Regions from separate parts of the Homo sapiens genome. Here region 2 is linked to region 1. A link means that fine-mapping ties the variant in region 1 to the plasma level of a protein whose gene starts in the linked region. Region 1 holds a variant in brackets. A gene starts in the other region. All regions are shown on their reverse strands.

Region 1 (2,913 bases):
ATATTAATGAAAGTTGATTGTATATCATGATGCGCCATAAAACAACTGTAAATTTTAAAACATAAAAATAAGTAACATTCTTGGTTAATCTAGAAGTCTTTTTATTTCTTTTATTTTCTGTTTTTTAAATTTTTTTATTCTTTAGAGATGGGTTTCGCTATGTTGCTCAGGCTGGTCTTGAACTCCTGGGCTCAGGTGATCTTCCCACCTCAACCTCTCAAAGTGTTGGAATTACAGGCGTGAGCCACTGCACCTGGCCCAGTCAGTTTGGAAGTCTTCAGTGGAAGAATGCTTCTACTGGGGGACGCAGCAAGAGTTCCAAAAATTAGAGTTGCCGGATTTAGCAAATACAAATACAGGGTGCCTAGTTAAATGTGAATTTCATGTAAACAATGAACACTTTTTTTAGTTTAAGTGTGATCCAAATGTTGCATGGAACATACACTAAAATTATTTGTTGTTTACCCGAAAATCAAATTTAACTGGGCATCCTGTATTTTACCTGAAAACCCTAAATTAAGCTTGGAGGTTGAGACCTGTCAACTCTGGACCCTCATGCAAGTGAAGGTAAGGCAAAGAAGGAGTCCACTTTGATGGTTGGTGTGACTAATCCTGATAATGAAGGGAAAAATTAGATTGCTTCTGCACAGTGATGGTAAAGATGAGTATGTCTGGAATGCAGGGCACCCAGACATACTGGGTGCACCCCCTTACACTCCAATGCCCTATAATTAAAATCAACAAAAAACTATAATAACCCAAATCAGGCAGGACTGCTGATGGCCCAGACCATTCAAGAATAAAAGTTTAGGTGACCCCATTGGGCAAGGAACCAACGACAGATGAAGTGCTTGCTGAGGGCAAAGAGAATATGGAATAAGTAACAGAAACATCGTTATAAATATCTGCTACAACCACATGACCAGTTGCATAAACAAGGACCATAAAAGTTGTGAATATTTCTTTCTTATTTTAATATAAATGGACATTACATTAATTGTGTTTCTTTTTACCCCTTTCCTTCCCCTACTGTATAAGATGTGTTTGTAGTGGCTTACCTTACATCTCAATATTTAAGTTATAGAATATCAAAGGGGAGATATGACTCAGCTCAAAGGGAATTCTCTTTTAGGAAAAGAATTTCCATGTTTTTGGGTGTATGAGGGATAGTTGCATTATGTAAAATGTGAGTATTACTTTGCTATTGACTTTATTTGGAAATTAAGCTAAGTATGGTTAAAACTAGTGTATACAAATATCACATTTGACAAGGAGTGAGCTGTGGTAGATTTATGTTGTGTCAACTTAGCTAAGCTGTAATTATGTTTCCCAGAATTATCTTCCATACATAATGCCAAGTTAGTATGGCCCATAAAAGACGGTAGATGTGAATTAGTAGAGCCATACTCCATATGCTAGAAAGGTCAGGGCAGAGCACAGGATGTGACTGCAGTTCACAAGCACTGTTGTTTCTCTGTTCTATCACTTTGTTAGTAGAGGGCTCAACCAGGCCACAGCAGAGCCAGCTCCTGCAGGATCTCCTCCTTCATGTACCCTGGCTTCTGATCCAAGTACATTAGCACTGTGA[C/T]GGACAACTTCTACAGGACATACCCATTTTTGAAGTTGAAGGCTAAGGGGCAGTGAAAGAACAAGATGAATTCCAGTTTACAATGGTGGGCTTTACTCGCTCATCTTTGCAGGTTCCAGTTTGTCCTTGAAGCACTCAGTTCATGTCTATCTTCCCTTCCTGAGTCCCTGCCCTGCTTACTTCAGGCCACAGCAACAGACATTGAAGGAACAGCCTCCTGTAAACACCATTTAACTATCTCCCACACCTATGTCAAGTCAGGTCCCTACAATAAATCCTGCGGTTCTATTTCTCCAGGTAAATCCTGACTGACATAATTAACATAAGTAGATAAGAAAAAGAAAATGGAAATCTAAAAATTGGGAAGTAGGAGGTAAAAGAATCATTGAAATGATGTGATTACAAACCAGATAATCCTAAGAGAATTCAACTGAAAGAATTTTTTTAAATTTTTACAAATAATATGACATGGTTTGGCTGTGTCCCCACCCAAAACTCATATTGAATTGTAGTTCCTATAATCCCCATGTGTCATGGGAGGAATGTAGTGGGAAGTAATTGAATCATGGGGGCAGTTACCCCAATGCTATTCTCGTGATAGTGAGTGAGTTTCTCATGAGGTCTGTTGGTTTTATGAGGGGCTTTTCCCCCTTTACTCAACACTTCTCCTCCCTGCCGCCATGTGAAGAAGGTGCCTTTCTTCCCCTTTGCCTTCTGCGATGATTGTAAGTTTCCTGAGGCCTTACCAGCCATGTGGAACTGTGAGTAAATTAAACCTCTTTTCTTTATAAATTACCCAGTCTTGGGTATTTCTTCATAGCAGCATGAGAATGAACTAATGCATAATAAATTTAGAAAGTTGGCTGAGATATCAAACTAACATGCAGAAATCAATAGTAGATAGATGATAGATAGATAGATAGATAGATAGATAGATAGACAGATGATAGATAGATAGATGATAGATAGATAGATATAGATAGATAGACAGACAGACAGACAGACAGACAGACAGACAGATAGATGATAGATAGATGATAGATAAACTAGTTACAATACAAATTGGATAAATAATCCATTTAAAATACCAAAAACATTTTTTGTTTGGTTTTGCCAGAGGTTTAAACTCTTCAAGAAATGCAAAATCTATGTGAGGAAAGCTGAAACACACATGAAGAAACAAGGAAAAAAAGACTAAGACGAACTGAGGAAAGCATAGCAAAGGGTAGCAGAATATGCCAAAATAGACCAGTTTGGCATAAAGATTGTTTTTTGAGTTAAAAGCACTTGAAACACAGCAAGATGCAGGAAGGGCACTCTGACCT
Region 2 (2,913 bases), not on the chromosome of region 1:
CCTAGTGCAGGACAAATGAGAGTTAGCTTCAAAGCAATAGCCTTAGGTGGGTGCACTGTTGTTCCAGAGATGCTGATGCTACACCAAACACTGACACCAGCCCTTAGATTCTCCCCCCAGGACAGGCCTGGTGTGATTCCCATGTTGGGGGTGCTAGGGCAGGAGGCGGCCTTTTAAGGAAACTGAGTCTCAGGGACAGGAACCACCTGGCAAAATCACACAGCTACTCAGGGCAAGAGCAGAAGCTGGGGCTTTGATTTCTCCGCTGGAAGTCTCTCCCACACCGGCGGGCCTCTCATCCTTCCTTAGCCTCACATGCTACATTGGAGATAGACTATTCTGCTCTCATCTGAGGCCATGGTTTATTCAAGACTGGCTCAGAATGGCTTTGGACTATTTGGACTATTTTCTAAAATAACTAAACCCATCTCAGGAGGAGGAAGCTGGGGATGTCCAAGGGAATGTGCCCATGCATCTGCCTGGCAGTGGCCGGGCTTGGAGTAGAAGCTGAGTGCACCATGATCACTGCCAAGTGCCGGCATCAAGCATTTGGTTTCTACACCAGCTTCACGCAGAGGACAAGGGCCAGCCATTTTCTGGTGGAAGAAAAGGTCTGAGGCGAATATTCCTTTTTTTTTTTTTTTTTTTTGAGATGGACTTTTGCTTTTGTTGCCCAGGCTGGAGTGCAATGGCACGATCCCGCCTCACCGCAACCTCTGCCTCTCTGGTTCAAGCGACTCTCCTGCCTCAGCCTTCCGCGTAGCTGGGATTACGGGCATGCACCACCATGCCCAGTTAATTTTGTGTTTTTAGTACAGACGGGGTTTCATCATGTTGGTCAGGCTGGTCTCAAACTCCCAACCTCAGGTGATCTGCCCGCTTCGGCCTCCCAAAGTGTTGGGATCACAGGCGTGAGCCACTGCGCCCGGCCGCAAATATTCTTGTATTGGGAGCCTTGGGCTTTTTAGAGTCACCTCAGAGGTTAGTGGGGTGCTCTACGGGAGCCTGTTTAAGAGTCTGGAGTCCTTAGTCTAGGTTTGCGAAAGATCTTCCAGAAGCGAGATCTATTCAATTCTGAAGAAATAACTCAGGAGGTCTTTCAGAAACTCCTTCCCGCTGGACCTCACGGGACTCTCCTGGACTCGGTGGGTTGAGGTTTGATCCTCTTTGCAGGCCAGGGGATGGATTAGGTGACCCCAGAGGAGCCCTGCTGACACCTGGATTCCAGCTGCTTTCGTGGCCATGTGGGGGTGGCTGTGCGTGCCCCGCCACTGCGTGCGTGGGTGTCTGTGTGTGTTATCGGTGGGGGGCGCGTGAGTGTGGCCGCGGGTGGGTGTGTCCGATGTGCCCCGGCTTGGGACCGCGCCCGCTGCGCCCACTTGTGGCTCCTGGGAGCCGCCAGGGGGAACCGCGCCTTCACCGCCTCTGCCGAGGACGCCGCCAGATAGGAGGCTGATGACATGAGGGCTCCGTCTCCCGAGTGATGGCAGCGCGCGCTGCTTCGCCGCCTCCGCCGCTCAGCCCCGGACTCCTTACGTCAGGGTAGCGGGGTCCCCCCTCCGCGCGGGAGCCAGCGAACAGCGAGAGAGCACAGCAGAGCGCGCCGCGGAGCCGGGGCGCCCTCACTGCGCTAGGAGCCCCACTAAACCCAGCGGAGCGGAGCCTGGCGGGAGGCAGCGCCGCGGAGCCAGCGCCGGACGCCGCAAGCAGACTCCCCGGCCAGCGCAAGCACTCCCTGGCCGGCGCCGGACCCTCGGGGCGCCGGATTCGTCTTGTGTGCCCCACGTCATGCGCGCGGGCGTCCGCGGCTCTCCCGACCAGCCCCAGCGCGGTGGGCCCAGGCTCAGAGGTCCCGGCGCCTCTCGCTGAAGTAGTTGGGTAGCCGGGGCTGGGGGTCGCCACGTCGGGGGCGCGGCCAGGACCCGCGGAGCCGGTCCCCGAGCGCGGGGAGCGGGGCCGCCCGCGCCGCCCCACCATTACCTCCCCGGGCGGCAAGGAGGAGCTGGTGGCGGTCGCCTCCCGGCTGTGGCAGCGGCGGCGGCGTGCCTGCCTGGCGGCCGTCGGCGTACTCTTGGCCATGGCGCTCGGGCTGCTCATCGCCGTGCCGCTGCTGCTGCAGGCGGCGCCCCGAGGCGCCGCGCACTATGAGATGATGGGCACCTGCCGCATGATCTGCGACCCTTACACTGCCGCGCCCGGCGGGGAGCCCCCGGGTGCAAAGGCGCAGCCACCCGGACCCAGCACCGCCGCCCTGGAAGTCATGCAGGACCTCAGCGCCAACCCTCCTCCTCCTTTCATCCAGGGACCCAAGGGCGACCCGGGGCGACCGGGCAAGCCAGGGCCGCGGGGGCCCCCTGGAGAGCCGGGCCCGCCTGGACCCAGGGGCCCTCCGGGAGAGAAGGGCGACTCGGGGCGGCCCGGGCTGCCAGGGCTGCAACTGACGGCGGGCACGGCCAGCGGCGTCGGGGTGGTGGGCGGCGGGGCCGGGGTAGGTGGCGATTCCGAGGGTGAAGTGACCAGTGCGCTGAGCGCCACCTTCAGCGGCCCCAAGATCGCCTTCTATGTGGGTCTCAAGAGCCCCCACGAAGGCTATGAGGTGCTGAAGTTCGATGACGTGGTCACCAACCTCGGCAATCACTATGACCCCACCACGGGCAAGTTCAGCTGCCAGGTACGCGGCATCTACTTCTTCACCTACCACATCCTCATGCGCGGCGGCGACGGCACCAGCATGTGGGCGGACCTCTGCAAGAACGGGCAGGTCAGTGACCCCTACACTCACCGGCCCCCGTAAACCCTCGCCCGCGCCCTGAACCTCCCAGGGAACCAGCCTCCTTTCTCTCCACCCGCGGGCTACCCTGCGAGCCCCGGGAATGAACGCGCCTCGGTGCCACAGTATCTCCGCTTCCCGAT

Direction of the effects. Alleles are on the strand shown, and positions count from the first base shown. The strength of an association depends on the size of the effect and on how common the allele is.
In carriers of allele C in region 1, the plasma level of the protein whose gene starts at base 1,596 in region 2 tends to be higher than with T alone (weak association).

The links. PIP is the posterior inclusion probability: the model's chance that the variant is causal. The UK Biobank Pharma Proteomics Project read protein levels with antibody pairs (Olink). The fine-mapping took linkage between variants from a reference panel, not from the people measured, so its PIPs are less certain.
Region 2: it holds the start of C1QL2, and the variant in region 1 is fine-mapped to the plasma level of the C1QL2 protein (UK Biobank, PIP above 0.99).

The regions. Positions count from the first base shown.
Region 1 is chr1:207,117,829-207,120,741 of GRCh38, reverse strand. All of the region lies in intron 4 of C4BPA (complement component 4 binding protein alpha), which reads right to left. Among named protein-coding and RNA genes, the nearest start is that of C4BPA, 15 kb to the right of the region's middle. The variant C/T (reference allele first, on the strand shown) is at 1,589.
Region 2 is chr2:119,157,434-119,160,346 of GRCh38, reverse strand. C1QL2 (complement C1q like 2) reads left to right here and starts at 1,596. Exons shown (of 2, transcript NM_182528.4): 1 at 1,596-2,761. The coding sequence starts at 2,078. RefSeq lists an enhancer at 2,418-2,913.